Linked DNA regions of Homo sapiens: region 2 is linked to region 1. The links come from fine-mapping of genetic effects on gene expression. A gene starts in region 1. The other region holds a variant in brackets. All regions are shown on one strand. Distances are between the middles of the regions.

Evidence for each region. PIP is the estimated chance that this variant, and not a neighbour inherited with it, causes the effect. A credible set is the group of variants that fine-mapping cannot tell apart.
Region 2: its variant is the best candidate, but not a certain one, in a credible set for the expression of LURAP1L-AS1 in prefrontal cortex (CommonMind, PIP 0.78).

What each region holds. Positions count from the first base shown.
Region 1 is chr9:12,812,456-12,816,858 of GRCh38, reverse strand. It overlaps LURAP1L-AS1 (LURAP1L antisense RNA 1), which reads left to right and starts at 2,470. Exons shown (of 4, transcript NR_125775.1): 1 at 2,470-2,566. All of the region lies in intron 1 of LURAP1L (leucine rich adaptor protein 1 like), which reads right to left. RefSeq lists an enhancer at 1,658-2,857.
Region 2 is chr9:12,743,163-12,747,565 of GRCh38, reverse strand. All of the region lies in intron 3 of LURAP1L-AS1 (LURAP1L antisense RNA 1), which reads left to right. Among named protein-coding and RNA genes, the nearest start is that of LURAP1L, 30 kb to the left of the region's middle. The variant C/T (reference allele first, on the strand shown) is at 1,922.

The DNA.
Region 1 (4,403 bases):
CTTTCCTCTTTTCCTCTTCACTTCCCCTCCTCTACTCTGGTCCTTACAGTTTATGTCATATGGTTCAGCTTCCTACTTAGTCTCTCAGGCTTCAGGATTATGATGTCACAGGTCTCTGTATTTTAGGGAGAATGTTGAGATTTCATGTCATTTTTTTGACAGGTGATGAACTGAGTCTATGGTAGAACTTGAAATGAGGAATCTTGAAGGAGAAAATATTCTTAACAGCAAACTTTCCCAGATATCTTTTTTTCTTCTAGAGTGCCATTTAAAAATTGAAAGAATACAAAGGTTATGCATTGGCACAATGGAATCTAAGAAAAAAATGCAGTCGGAGTTTTGGTTGCTAACCAAGTTGACTTCTTTGTGGTGTTGTATGAGGAACATGGTACTGACTCCAATCTGCCACTGCCACTATCTTCCTATTTGACCTTTGGGGAAAGTGGCTTGGCATACAGGACCTCAGTTTCCTTATACATGAAGAAAAATCAGGAGATTTCATTCCGAGCTGCAGTGAACCATGGGACTCAGTGAAGGTGGTAAAGTAGTTCTGTGAACAAAGACTAATCTTACCCAATAAGAAGACTGAATTCAACTGAGGCATCCACCTAACATATCTGCTTTTCATACTGAGATTTCGTTTCAGATATTTAATAACGTCTTATAACATTTCAGGCATTTAATGTTTAATTTAATAGGAAGAGTCTACAGATCAGATAATCCCAGGATTTCCTTCCATTTCGACATATTCTCTGATATTTTGCCATTCCTGTGGCCATTTGATTACGAAATTGTTTACGTTATGAGAAAATTATTCAGGCTATAGAGGAGACAGAAGAATCAATTCTGCTGCTCAGTAACTCCAGCAAAAGATGTAGCTGGTAAAAACTCATGGCTAAGGCTAGAAGTTTGGGTTTGATGTTAATTTGAGGTACTTTATCAGAAATTTTGTCATAATAATTTTTGCTCTCACCATTTGGGTTTGAATAAAAATCATTTTTGTATTCCACTCCAAGACAAACGTGCATATCATCTTTAATATGTCTATATATTAACTGAAATGTGCACATGAGCTGCTGAATATATCTTCCAAATAGGGACATTTTTTGCCTTTCTGGAGCCTTGGATAGCATCATATACTCAGGTTTCTCATAAAGCCCTCCTCCATTATTGTTACCCTTTTATTTATGAATGTCAACTAGTCAGATAAAAGCAGGCCACCTCCTAGTTATACATTTGTATGGTAAAATCCACAATATTCAAGATGTAAATCCCAACCATCCTGCAAGCTGTAATATGAATTAGAAGGAAGAAGGACTTCTTTGCAAGTCCATAGTCACATACATTGAAGGAAGAAAGATTAGACTTGCTTTTTAATGTGATGCTCTAACCCTAGTTTCTCATTAGGAGAAACTAATCATCGTTCTCTCTGATTTGTAGTTGGTGGAAGAGAGTTTAGTTCTGTCAGGGCCTCTTTTCTATCCACATTTATTTTAGAATATATTTTTAAAAGTCTATATAAACTGAAGAGCTGTTTAAAAGCACTTGGAGTATTGTTTTTCCAGCAATTTATTCCAGTTTGTTTGCTTGTTCCTTTTGCATAAGCTCCTTGTGTTCAAATTTGCCCTCTCTCCAAATTCAGGACATCCTCAATTTGATGATCACAGAAGATTTTCTGCCTACCCATCCTTAAAATTTCCAGCAGTGTTTTCAATATCTATACTTATAAATCACTCCTCTGTTTTCTCAGAAGATCCATAAAAATATTATCATCTTTTTGCAGCCTGAGAAGACACTGTACAACATTTCCACTCACTGTTTTTGGTTTGGAATGCTTCAGGTGAAAAGCCTACAATTATGCAAAAGTCAGTGCTGTTCCTTCCACCAAAGCTTTCTTTCACTTTCTCAGTCAGTTCAAAATTTACAACAAAATTTGTTTCTAACTGGGCAACAGAGGATTCCCTTTCACATCAGTCAGCTTTGTCTTCCTCCATTTTTGTTGTTTATATGTGGAACTGAACAATAACTGAAACAGTTCACTCTTTTCCCAGAACGTTATAGAAAAGTAATTTCCCCAAGGACTAAATTACATACATAAAAATACTGTCATCAGCACAGTGGACTGATTGATGTTGTTTTGATAAAGTAGAAAGCTGTATCTGGTGTATTTGAAAGGAGCACATGTGACTCCTGTGAATCATAAGCATAAATTCCGGCCACCAGGCCTGCTCGTGAGATCTGTACAGTTTCTGCTGGTGAGTCATCTGATTGCCAAAGTAATACATGCAGCTTTTCAGTATGATTTCATCAGATTCTAGGTCCAATTGATACTTAGATGCCTGTGATGTCAATTCCTTTTCCATAATCTAATACAGTGAAAACTGTTTCCCTGAATATTTTCAACATGAATGTGCAAAGAGTAATTTAGGCTGATGCAATCGGCTATAAATCACCTGAGCCGAGATTCATTTAGAATGATCTAATGAAAACATGGACTCCCCATATTCACAGCAGAGAAGTTTTTCACATTGAACACAGACCAGAGAAGTGTTTCCACTAATTTATAGTAAGTATTGTGCATGTGTGTCTTTTCAATTTAGAACTTAAGATATTCTTTTCACATGGTAGACCAGGGCATGTTAATGTGCTCCTCCGTGATCTGTAGTGGCCACAGTTACATTGTAAGGGAAGGACACAGGGTAGTGTGCCAGTAAATGTTTAACAAGCAGCTTCCTGGGAAAAATAAACATGCACACACACACATGCATGCATATATACTACAAAATATAATACAAATTGTGCTGATATAGAAGATGTATAACACACACTTGACAGATAATAATAAAATATACAGCACTTTTTATTGTCAATTCCATATAACCAACTGATTTCAGAGAATGTTTTATTTATTCTTGCTGAACTGTTGTATGTATAGCAAACTATGGACGCAGTTCAAACAAAATGTCACAAATACAGTTAATCTCAATTGATAATTCATTCCTCAATAATTGTTATTGTTACACCTGATATGTGATCCACTGTTAAATTATTTTTCACTTAGTGAAAACTATATTAATTAAACTGAAATTTGTTTCAGCCTCAGCATGGGTTATGTTGGAATTTTACTGGTTCATCAATGATGTCAGCAATTTCTTCACTGAATTGAATAACAGTTTTCAAATACATGGAGAATATTTCCTTTTTTTGGCACTATTGGAAATGTAATAACTAGGGACATGCCACAAATTTCAATTTCAATCTGCAGTATTAAAATTTTCTCTATCACTTAAGTCTAGACAACCAATAAAATAAAAATCAAGTTCTGCTTTATAGTGTTTTTAAATTTCTGTAGCATAAATACTCCTACATGGCCAATTTGAATCTGTCTATAGAATGTCCTTAAACATAAACATGGGATTGATAAGAGATACTCGGTACTAGAGCATATACGGTATTTTCACCCTGTGAATAAAATAGATGTTTTAAAAACCTCAAAAAATCATGAAAGTAAAATGTAGTAAAATAATTAGGATGCCATGAATTTTGAGTATTTATTACCTTTGTTTTAAATTATAGGTTTATATAAATACTTAACTAGTAGGTTTATATAAATACTTTAAATTTTAATAATGTCTGTGATTGGCAACTAGTTCACAAAACTCCTGAAAATTTAACAAAAAGCTCACACATCTCAGTAGATATTAGCTTCAGTGTACCATTGAGGAGGTACGGAATGAAGGCTTTACTTAATTGATTGCATTTTGTAATAAGCAGATTAGAGACTTGCATTTTACCCCTTAGGGCTTTTATTTTTCTAGACGTAATTAAAATCTGAAGGTAATCTTATCTTTTCCATTGAATAAAATTTGAGATAGATGTAAAATATTTATACCAAAGTTTTTAGTGTCTTTTCTGGAAAGATTTCAAAAACTGAATATAAATGACTCAGCATTGTTGAGACATGAAATATACTGAAAAAGGGAATAAGCCAGGTATCTAAACTCAGTTGAACATTTATGCTTTTGTATTATAATAATTTTTGATGGCTATATTTCTAAAATAAGAGGCCACTGTTATAAACAGTAGGCTTTATAATGCAGAGTTGTTCAGCAATGCATTTGAAGATTGTTGAGGAGATAGGACTGTAATCTCTATTTTTACATGATTCCTGACATCTTTTCTACTCAAATGCTTTATCTTCTCTTTTAGTAATTTCTTGATACTATAATTAAATCTGTTTGCCGTGGATCTTATGCCCCATATTTCTTCTTCATTCTCCCAATTCTATTTCCTACACGCTATGTGCAGCCCAGTAGTGCTTTAGTAAACTTACTTTGTAAAATTTTTTGTAGGGGAGAACTGACTTGAAAAGAAAAGTGATCTCTGTATTTCTTACAAAGGCA
Region 2 (4,403 bases), 69 kb after region 1:
ACAAAGATTTGAGTTACACAGATGTATACATTTGTCAGCATTCAGTGAATGTACACATAAGAATTTTATATTATGAAAATAATTTTTTCATCAAAAGAAAAAAGATGGACAGATATTCGTTTTATTTAATGTTATGCATGCTGAAGTCTCTAGTAGGAAGTATGCTGAAGTCCACAATTTACTTTAAAATGCATCAAAGAAGATGAATTACTGGATGGATGGAGGAATAAATAAATGGATATACACATAAAACACCTCCCGAAGAGGGCCGACTAGAAGCAGCGACGTTTGGAGGCTCCCATAGAAAAAAAAAAACGAAAAAACATAATAAGCATGTGAATCCTTCACCAGCAACCAAGGTATCCAGGTTCTCTCGTCAAAATTGACTAGAAGGCTGGCGTGACTCATGGAGAGAAGGCCCACCTGAGAGCCACACGGGGAAGGGAAACCCCCTTCCCCCAGCCAAGGGAGGCACCGCCTTGAGTGACATCTCTGGGCACAGGAGAAAAATCAGATGAATAGGGCCTGAAGTGAACCCTCAGCAAACTGCAGCAGCCCTACAAAAGAGAGCCCTAACTACTGAAAGAAAAACAAACAGAAAGTAACAACAACAGCCACAACAACAAAAAGGCCCCCACAAAAATCCCATCCAAGGGTCAGCAGCCTCAAAGACCAAAACTAGACAAACTCATGAAGATGAGAAAGAATCATCAAAAAAATGCCAAAAACTCAAAAGGCCCAGAGTGCCTTGTCTCCTCCAAACGATTGCAATGTCTCTCCTTCAAGGGTGCAGAACTGGTCAGAGAATCAGATGGACAAATTGACAGAAGTAGGCTTCAGAAGATGGGTAATAAAAACTACACTGAGCTAAGGGAGCATGTCTACCCCAATGCAAAGAAGCATGTATACCCAAATGCAAAGAAGCAAAGAAACTTGATAAAAGGCTAGAAGAATTGCTAACTAGAATAAACAGTTTAGAGAGGAACATAAATGACCCGATGGAGCTGAAAAACACAGCACAGGAACTTCATGAAGCATACATAAGTATCAATGCTGAATTGACCAAGTCAAAGAAAGCATATCAGAGTTTGAAGACCACCTTACTGAAATAAGACATACAGACAAAAATAGAGATGAAAGAATGAAAAGGAATGAACAAAGCCGCCAAGAAATATGGGACTTCATAAAAAGACTGAACCTACAAATGATTGGTGTACCAGAAGGAGACGGGGAAAATGGAAACAAACTGGAAAACATACTTCAGGATATTATCCAGCAGAACTTCCCCAACATAGCAAGAGAGGCTAACATGCAAATTCAGGAAATACAGAGAATACCATTGAGATACTTCATGAGAAAATCAACCTCAAGACACATAATCATCAGATTCTCCAAGGTTGAAATGAAGGAAAAACTGTTAAGGGCAGCCATAGAGAAAGGCCAGGTCACATACAAAGGGAAGTCCATCAGACTAACAGCAAGCCTCTCAGCAGAAACTCTACAAGCCAGAAGATATAGGGGGCTAATATTCAATAGTCTTAAGGAAAAGGATTTTCAACCCAGAATTTCATATCCAGCCAAACTAAGCTTCATAAGTGAAGGATAAATAAAATCCTTTCCAGACAAGCAAATGCTGAGGGATTTTGTAACCACCAGGCCTGCCCCACAAGAGCTCCTGAAAGAAGCACTAAATATGGAAAGGAAAAATCAGTACTAGCCACTGCAAAAACACATCAAAATATAAAGACCAATGACACTATGAAGAAACTGCATCAAGTAGTGTGCAAAATAATAAAATAGCATCATGATGACAGAATCAAATTCACATATAACAATACTCTCCTTATATGTAAATGGGTTAAATGCCTCAATTAAAAGACACAGACTGGCAAATTGGATAAGGAGTCAAGACCCATCTGTG[C/T]GCTGTATACAGGAGACCCATCTTACATGCAAAGACACACAGGCTCAAAATAAAGGGATGGAGGAAAACTTACCAAGCAAATGGAAAGCAAAAAAAAAAAAAAAAAAAAAAAAAAAGCAGGGGTTGAAATGCTAGTCTTTGACAAAACAGACTTTAAACCAACAAAGATCAAAAAAGAGAAAGTAGGCCATTACACAATGGTAAAAGGAACAATTCAACAAGAAGAGCTAACTATTCTGAATATATATGCACCCAATACATCAGATTCAATATATATGCATCCAGATTCATCAAAGAAGTTCTTAGAGAACGAAAACAAGACTTAGACTCCCACACAATAATAGTGGGAGACTTTAGCATCCCACAGTCAGTATTAGACAGATCAACAAGACAGAAAATTAACAAGGATATTCAGGAATTGAACTCAGTTCTGGATCAAGTGGACCTAGTAGACATCTACAGAACTCTCAACCTCAGATCAACAGAATATACATTCTTCTCAGTGTGACATGGCACTTATTCTAAAATCAACCACATAATTGGAAGTAAAACACTCCTCAGCAAATGCAAAAGAACTGAAATCATAACAAACAGTCTCAGACCACAGTGCAATCAAATTAAAACTCAAGATTAAGAAGCTCACTCAAAACCACACAATTTCATGGAAATTGAACAACTTGCTCCTGAATGACTCCTGGGTAAATAATGAAATTAAAGCAGAAATCAACAAATTCTTTGAAACCAATAACAAATAGACAACATACCAGAATTTTGCGGACACAGCTGAAACAGTGTTAAGAGGGAAATTTATAACACTAAATGCCCACATTAGAAAGCTAGAAATATCTCAAATCGACACCCTAACATCACAAATAAAAGAGCTAGAGAGGCCGGGCGCAGTGGCTCATGCCTGTAATCCAAGCACTTTTGGGAAGCTGAGGCAGGTGGATCACCTGAGGTCAGGAGTTTGAGAACAGCGTAGCCAATGTGGTGAAACCCCATCTGTACTAAAAATACAAAAGTAATCGGGTGTGGAAGTTGGGAGGCAGAGGTTGCAGTGAGCCAAGATCATGCCACTGCACTTCAGCCTGGTCAACAGAGACTCTTTCTCAATAAAAAAAAAAAAGAGAGAGAGAGAAAGAGGGGCAAGAGCAAAGTAATCCAAAAGCTATCAGAAGACAAGAAATAGCTTGGCTGTGGATTTGTCAGAAATAGCTTATTATTCTGAGATATGTTCTATATATACCAGTTTATTGAGAGTTTTTAACATGACGAGATGTTGAATTTTGTCAAAGGCCTTTTCTGCATCTATTGAGATAATCATGTGGTTTTTGTCTTTGGTTCTGTTTATGCAGTCCACAGACAAGATCAGAGAAGAATTGAAGGAGATAGAGACATGAAAAGCCCTCCAAAAAAATCAACAAACCAGGAGATGTTTGTTTGAAAAACTTAACAAAATAGACTGTTAGCTAGACTATTAAAGAAGAAGAAAGAGAAGAATCAAATAGACACAATAAAAAATGATAAAAGGGACACCACCACTGACCCCACAGAGATACAAACTATCATCAGAGAACACTATAAACACCTCTAAGTAAATAAACTAGAAAATCAAGAAGAAATGGATGAATTCCTGGATGCATACACCCTACCAAGACTAAACCAGAGAGCAGTCAAATCCCTGAATAGACCAATAACAAGCTCTGAAATTGAGGCAGTAATTAATAGCCTAACAACCCAAAACAGCCCATTACCAGATGGATTCACCGCCAAATTCTACCAGAAATACAGAGAGGAGCTTCTACCTTTCCTTCTGAAACTACTCCAAACAACTGAAAAGGAGGGACTCCTCCCTAACTCATTTTATGAAGCCAGCATCATCTTGTACCAAAAAACTGGGAAGAGACACAACAAAATAAGAAAACTTCAGGCCAACATCCCTGATGAACATTGATGTGAAAGTCCTCAATAAAATACTGGCAAACTGAATCCAGCAGCACATCAAAAAACTGATCCACCATGATCAAATCAGATTAATCTCTGGGATGCAAGGCTGTTTCAACATACGCAAATCAATAAATGTAATCAATCGCATAAACAGAACCAAAGACAAAAACCACATGATTATCTCAACAGATGCAGAAAAGGCCTTTGATAAAATTCAACATCTCTTCATGTTAAAAACTCTCAATAAACTAGATATTGATAGAAAATATCTCAAAATAATAAGCTATTTCTGACAAATCCACAGCCAGTATCATATTGAATAGGCAAAAAGTTGGAAGCATTCCCTTTGAAAACCGGTACAAGACAAGCATGTCCTCCTCTCTCACCACTTCTATTCAACATAGTATTGGAAGTTCTGGCGAGGGTAATCAGGCAAGAGAAAGAAATAAAGAGTATTCAAATAGGAAGAGAGGAAGTCCAGTTGTCTCTTTTTGCAGACGACATGATTTTATATTTAGAAAATTCCATCATTTCA